Linked DNA regions of Homo sapiens. The protein of the gene in region 2 purifies or fractionates together with the protein of the main gene of each other region. This does not show direct contact. Each region holds a gene or a part of one and is shown on either strand. Other genes may lie near its edges.

Region 1 (3,825 bases), on a different chromosome or scaffold from region 2:
AAAAATTATGATGCTTTAAAAACACACACAGAGAAATAATAGGTTTTATGCAAATGTCAAGACATTATAAATAAAGAAAATAATGTTATTTGTTATGCAGGCTAAACACTGACCAACTCACTCAATATATTCTGGAAGTGGCAAAATAAAATTGGAAAAGTAGAACAAGTAATTTAACATACTACACTTATCTTCATATAAATTACTGCAATGAGGCGCCATCACCATCACCATCAAAAAAAGAAGAATTCCTACAATCAATATGTGGAATTTTAGCTAAAAAAGAAAAGTCTATTTAGAAGTCTGTCACAGCCACATGGTTACCTCAAGCCTTACCTCATCACTGCTCCACCGGTTTGGGAATGAGGGGCGTAACTTCTTGATGCACACAATCTCCCTCATGTCCTCATAAGAGGGGTCACTGGGCACTAGGTCATGATAAGGAAGCTGGTATTCTTCCACTATACCTAAAAATATGTTGTTACTATTATTATTATTATTATTATTTTCTGTGAAGTAGAAATAAAAGTCTAACACAGTTCTCAAAGGAAAAGTGCTATCAGTATTACAGACAAGTTCAGGCAGAAAAATAGCAAAATAAATCTTGAAAAATATTTACCCAAATGGTACTTAATCTAATTTAGAAAAAATGAATACAAAGCCCAATGAAAAATATTGTCATAGGTCTTCAAGCCTTTCTTTCCTAATTTCCAAAAGCTAAGTAAAACAAGCATCTTAAATTTATTTCCATTTTTATGAAGAACAAATTAAAAGACAAATCTATATTAAATCTCAATGCAAATCTGCAAGACATATCCTGAACTCATACTACATGTGACTGTTTCTATTACTATAGTATGAAACTATGAATATCATAATAAATTCAGAAGTGTATCCTACTTGAACAAAATGTCAGATTTACATTTTTTCTGCTTAATTGTAGGAATGTGGTTTTGCACATTAAAAATTTAGAAAATTACAGACACCCAAAAATATTAACCATGAATTTTTTAGGTTCAAGGATTATCTGATTTTTTTCCTATATTTATCCAAATTTTCAGTAAGGAATACATTACTATTAGAAAAAATATGTATTGTTAAAAGAAAAGAAATATAAATCTATAGCATCTTCATAAAAATGCACACTAAACTTTCATTTTATTGTTCCTAGTATTTAATTTCTACCTTCTTCCTCTTCTCCTTTAAAAATGCAGGCTTCTAGTATCTTCTTTTTCACCTTCTTAAGATTAACTCCTTATAATAATTACATTAGAGGCTGCTGCTCTGAACAATCTTTTGGGAGCACCCCTCCTCCCTATCCTAAATCATCTTTTATAGAAATATCATTGCTTTTCATCTGAAAAAGATGATGCCGTCAAGTTGGCAGATTATATATCACATCGTTAAATTCACTGGGGGCTTACTCTGCCAAAATCTGGGGTCTGTGTTATGTTCTTTCTTGTAAACTCAAATCTGTTATAAAATCATCAAGGACCAGAAGGTTCAGAAGTTTTTTCAGACCATTCCAACTCACCATTTGTCCTGTGCCCTGCTGTGACCACAGAGCTAATTATATGTATTATCTATGTTAATATTTCCTTTCACTGTGTTTTACCTCCATATGAGATAAGAAAAGCACAGGGCCTAACACGCAGGATGTGCTCTGCTTCATTTCAGTTCTTTCTCCCTTTCTCATTCTCAGGACCATGGCCCTGGAAACAGCCTGAAGGCAAAGCCCACATCTCTTTAACCCATCTCCTATTTTCCGCTGGTGGATGGACTGATGGATGGGGTGGGGTAGGTGTATCTACTACAACAGACGAAGGCAGAGCTCACCACTTAAAATTATGAATTACTCAAATCTAACTGTTGAATAATAGGCCTTATTCTTTTCTCCATGTCATGTAATCAAGTTTTCAAAATTTCCTGTTAGCTGCCATTTAACTCTGTTTGAAACCTCAAACCTTTCTGTCTTTCTTCTCCTTTAAAAGATGGAAAGGCCTACATCTGGATGTGTCTCTTTCACCCAGAAGGGCCTGGACTAGAAAGATAAGCCCAAAAAACTTCTAATATCTTCATAAAGTGTTAGAAAATAGAATTTTGTGTGCTTTGCCTCTCTGGAAAAATAAAATCGCTTATTGAGAGCTTCCTCTATCCCAGTTGTGGAAACAGGTATGCTATATAAATTATCTTATTAAATTCTCACAAATGCGTTTCTGAGATGACATTATTCTCCACACTACTCAGATGAGGAAACTTGGCTCTCAGGGGTTAAGTAACTTGCCCAAGTCCATTCAGTTGGTATGGGACAGAGCAGGGACTCCAACACCTCTAACAATAAGGCAACATTATAGCAAATCTCCACATCCAAAGACAGCCCTAGCAAAGCAAATTAATACCCTAGCACAGCAATTAATACCCTGCTGTTTATATAAAGCTACTTTGTTTTTAAGCTGAGAATAATTTCTCCTGTATTTGGCCCACAGGCTTTCAAATATAGGCTTCCTGTAGCCCTGTTTGTTTTAGATGTTCAAGAAAACATAATTAGAAAAATAACCTTGTTCTCTACACCTTCAACTTCCATAAAGCTATCTTAATTAAGTATAAGCATATTATTTTTTAAAAGGCTCGTCTACTTGTTTTTTTTTTTTTTTTCTTTTTAAATACAGACTGGGTCCCAATCTATTGCCCAGACTAGTCCTCAACTCCTGGCTTCAACTGATCCTCCCCGCTTGGACTCCCAAAATGCTGGGAATGCAAACGTGAGGCTTATCTACTCTTTATAATGCGTGAAATCAAGGCATAGACAATTTGTTAAATTTTTTGGTTACTTCTTCTTTACACTTAGAATGAGAAATTTATTCAATATCTGGTTAGAGAAAATTTCCTGCATTAACTTTCCTTTTGCACAAAATAGTTCCCTCACTTCAGAGAGTATGTGTTCTATTTCAAATTTCTTAAAACAGGTTCAGAATTCCCAAAGTGATTATTAGAAGGCACTGTGCCACTGATAATGATCTTTCTATTGAAGTGTGAATGCAGGTTGATTAACTGTTTCTTCTTTGTATTTAAATATGAACCTAAAGATGTTATGGCTCTACCAACCAAAATGAAAAGTATTAATAGTAATAATAGCTAACATGTATTGAGTGCTATTTATGTGCCAGGCAGTTCTCATTATCTTTACATTGAAACCATACAACCACAGAAGCAGATACAATAATTCAATTCATCTTTAAGAGGACTCTGAAACAAAGAAAAGTTTATAACCTGTCCAAGGCATCACAGATAAATAGCAGGAACAAGAACACATCTCAGTACTAGTTAAGTGCATGCTGCACTTTCAGAATCTTCAGCAAGCTCATGTTTTCATGAAGATAGACTTAAATTGGCCATTATGAGGAACAGCAGCAGCATCAAGGTTTTTTAATGAGCACAACCATGGAATAACATACAGAAGAGTTGATACAGAAAAGCCAAAGATTCAGCTCCTTGCCTAAAAGGTGTCAGAATTTACTCGAAGACAGACTGTAGAGCAATCAAAATAGTACAAGTAATAATACTTCTGAATATTTAAATATGTCTTCTTGTTCATTATAATTGTTTTTACTAGGGAATCCTCATATGTGTAGAAAAAACAATATAAAAAAATAATACTCTGATACTTTAATTTCCTTTTGATAAAAAACTGATGTTTTCAAATTGCTTTATGGGGAAGTTTTATAAAAAATACAGCAGGTAAGAAATGGGTGTCCGACCCCACATTTATGGCCTACTGTCATCTCTGCAGAGGAAATCCCAGGGAATGGAGTTGGGGATGGGGCC
Region 2 (3,825 bases):
ACATTAAAACAAAAGGAAAAATAAAATGAAGGCATTCAAACTACTTGTACAAAAATAATTACTAAAAACATTTCCATTGTTTGTTTAGGTATGCAACTTAATAATAAATGAATTTCAGAATTGTTTTTGAAAAAGGAATACTTTTGAATTCCCTGGAGACTGGCAATTTTAATATATGCTATTGGGAATACATTTGCAAAGTGCAGAATCTTTCATAAAAAAATTTATTCCCCAATCACCTTCTGTGATCATGGCATATACAGATTCTTATTGAACCCACTTAAACAGAGATATAAAGATCCACAGAATGAATGAACAAGAGTTGAGACTGAGAGGTTGGCAAAAATAACATGGAAGAAGTCAAGCATCCTCAAAACAGATCATCTGGTTTATCTTGAGTGTGTGAGGCACAGGACAACTACTGACATGTGCCCTCTCTGGAGCCTGTGAAGGGTGGGCTACTTCCTCCTGCAAAACAAAACCTGCCTTTCTTCTCAGTGTAGCTAACTCTGCCAGTTCAGAGCCTGTCCCTCTCATCTCATTCTGAGTGCCTACATGCCTGTAGCCGCCTCTCACAGCCAAAGGTGGGGAAGATGGCCCAGAGCTGATGTGGATGTCAGCCGAGGTATGTGTGTGTGCCAGACACCCCTGCAGCCCCCGGGGTGGAGAGATGAAAAACCAGCCCTGGCTTCCCCTTCAGAAACACATCTACCTGGCAAGGTAGCCAACTGGCACAGGTTCCTCCAAAGAGAGGGAGGCAGGCACAGGGCAAAACTAAAAACACAGAGGCCTTGAGAAAGCATACCTGTGCACACCATGACCAACAGGAAAACAAACCCTACCTTTCCCAAGGAAGGGGAGGAGAGGGCCATGGTGGGGAAGAAAACAGTAGACCAGGGGAGATGAGGCAACATCATTAAGCACCGCAGGCATGTCTGCCTTGAACTCACTGCTTGCCATGTAGAGAAAAAGAAAAGGCTTAGCTAATATATGGCCCCGGGTGACTTCATTTCATTCTATGGTGTTTAGATTTTTCCCCCACTTTGTCTTTTTGTGATAAGGAAAAGGGGGGTACCTAGGAACAGGCAGAGCTCACAAAGTTGGGCTTGAAGACGGCTTGCTCAAGAGGCCAGGTTCCCAGGACTGAGAAGCTGTCTTAGTAGCCTCATTGAGCAAAATACCCTGGGGTCTAGTGCTTCAGTGCAGTGTTAAAGGGAGCGAAATGAATGGATGTTTCCGAAAATTTCAGTATCACAGCTGGCCAGCTAGCCAATGACATCAGTCTTTCAATCTAGTGGCACTGAGCACGTGGGTTATTAAAAACACTTGACCACACAAGGATGATCTGGTATCTACAAGGCACAGTACTAGGTTACCCAACAACTGGTCTATGCACTTGCTTAAATTCTCAGTAAAGCTGGGATTTCCATGAAAAAATTTTTCAAAAGATTTTTTAAAGAAAGTATGGTGGTAGACATTAAGGGAAAATTTCAGATCTTGTTTAGAACTTATTTTATAAGCACTTTTATGCCTCTTATTGTTTTTATTTTTATCACCACCACTTTTTTGTGCTGAAGGTTTTTAAAGGTTTTATTTTGGTCCTGGCTGGGTAAAAGGAACGTATTGTAAGATTTAGGCCTTTCTTTGGTTTCACCAGCACACGTCATACTAGTATTGAGACAGGTCTTCAAGAGCAACCTTCCAGATGCTTATGGGGCTTTGGAGAGAGTTACAAAGAGAAGGGGGATGGGGAACCAAACCCAACAACTCCTAGAGGTTGTGAAGTGAGGCTACAGAATAGTTTGCTGCTGAACAGCATGGTCACCAGATGTGGGAAAATACCTTCCAATAGTGCAATTAAAGACCAAGCATTCTCATCATCTACTTGAATTTATGTCAGAGGACCACTTTCTCCAACTTTTTTTGAATGGGTAAAACCTTTGATCCTTATTCCAAACTGAGGGAGAAAACAAGATTGTCCTTTTTATTTATTTGCTAAAAATTACAACAGAATTCAACTGAAATAAAATGATCTTAAATACTTCAGTGTAAACTGTTCCATATATATAGCAATATTCATAAGGTTATCCCCCACATATTTTCACCATAATCAGTAACAATAGAATTCTGAAAGACTGAATAACAGAAGTGACATGACCGGATGGAAGGCATGAAGAATAAAATTTGAATACTGCTTCTTGTGAAGAGAATGAGTATTTCCCCATTTACAAGCTCTGATTAATCTCTATAGTTTTGTTCGAAGGTCACTCTGCCAAGTCCTCAATTATTTGCACAATTGATGACTTTTTCCATTCTCAATGGACTGCCTTCTTTCAGTTACCCAAAGACTATTCCCAGCTTTCATGTGCCATATGACTCTGCAGTAATGATGGATTTGGGGCCATCGTTTCTCTTATAACTTCATAATTCTATAACTTTATATATAATTTATAGCAAATACATATTCTGAGATATTTATAAAAAAATGATTTGAGTACATACAAAAACCAGAGGGAGAAAAGTTTATTTTGAGATATGGAATTTGGTAAGGCAAAAGACAAGCTTGAGCTTTTACTGAGAGTTGAAGTATAAACATTTTGGAGTTCCCCTAAGATGTCTAGACCAGTGTAACAGTCGTCTTTGATTAGGGCAATGACTTCTAGTCTTAAATTTGTGACACCCCAGGGTGTCTGCAGATATCTCCCGAGGTGTTGTAAAATTCCCTCCACAAAATGCCAAGTAAAATAAGCTTTAATTTATTTAAAAAGTATACCACACATGTTTAGACACAGGGGAGGGTGTCCTGGAATCAAGAGAACAGTCGTAAGTATTTCAAAAGCTTGAGTCTTGTCAATTACATTAAAAAACTAAACCAATTTTTTTGGATACAATAAATGCAAGAAATAAAGTAAGATGAGATGGTCTATGTGTGTGGTTTTGTGGTTGGAAAAGACACGGAAGGAGGTGGTTAGTCGGGACACTATTTTAGTGGAAAAGTGACTTTACTTACTAATGGCTGAATTAGCACTGACTGCCAATTAGAAACCTAGTTCATAGGTCCTCTCTACCTGCTTGCACTAAACACTGGTGCCTTGAAGTTGGTGTCAAAGATCTCTGTACAGTATTAGTTTCTTTAAAACAAACGAACACAGACCACATAAACTGGCAGCTAGTCATGGTAAGCTAAATTTTGTCAGTGTTTCTCTTAGCTTCTGACTGAAACTGTTAACCTGAGGCCCTGAGATTACACACAGGTTACATATTGCTGCTCTGCAATATCCAATTATTAACCTCCTCGGTCATCAAGAGGTTAGTAACTAAACCACCACTGTGGGTTTACCACTGGGAAGTTGGCTTATTGCCATTATGTTTTACTATAGCTTCCAAATCTCCAATAAAATATGTTTCCTGATACGTCACTGCCTCAGGCCTCACAGCTTTCTTTATTCAGAACACCCACTTCAATCATCTGATAAATCTGAACATGGATTTCTTCAAGAGTCACACACATATGCACTCAAAAAAAGACATCACTGAAAAAAGCATCCTTTTTTTACTAAACAGGTCTGCCTTTTCCCTGGAGAACTCAATTTCACTGTTTACTTTTTATTCTTTATATCACTGTCTATTTAAAATTAGAACCACGTTTACATTCCAATAAGAAATTCCTTACTAGATAATTTTTATTTAACCCTTTATCAACTGTTAATTGCTTTTCAAAAGAAGTTCCTTTTAAACTAGGCCCTTTATAGCACATTTCAAAAGTTATCTGAAGAATCAAACATCTTTTGAAAGTTGAGTAGGGAGAGGGAAAAAAGAAGGTAT

What was found.
Region 1: the proteins of RGMB (region 2) and BMPR1B purify together in Homo sapiens (affinity purification with western blotting, with the first as the bait; one study listed by BioGRID). This does not show direct contact.

Annotation. Positions count from the first base shown.
Region 1 is NC_000004.12:95,149,285-95,153,109, reverse strand, and holds part of BMPR1B (bone morphogenetic protein receptor type-1B isoform b precursor), read right to left. Parts: intron 468-3,825; coding exon 337-467; intron 1-336. UniProt on the Homo sapiens protein: On ligand binding, forms a receptor complex consisting of two type II and two type I transmembrane serine/threonine kinases.
Region 2 is NC_000005.10:98,780,095-98,783,919, reverse strand, and holds part of RGMB (repulsive guidance molecule B isoform 1 precursor), read right to left. Parts: intron 1-3,825. UniProt on the Homo sapiens protein: Member of the repulsive guidance molecule (RGM) family that contributes to the patterning of the developing nervous system. Acts as a bone morphogenetic protein (BMP) coreceptor that potentiates BMP signaling. Promotes neuronal adhesion.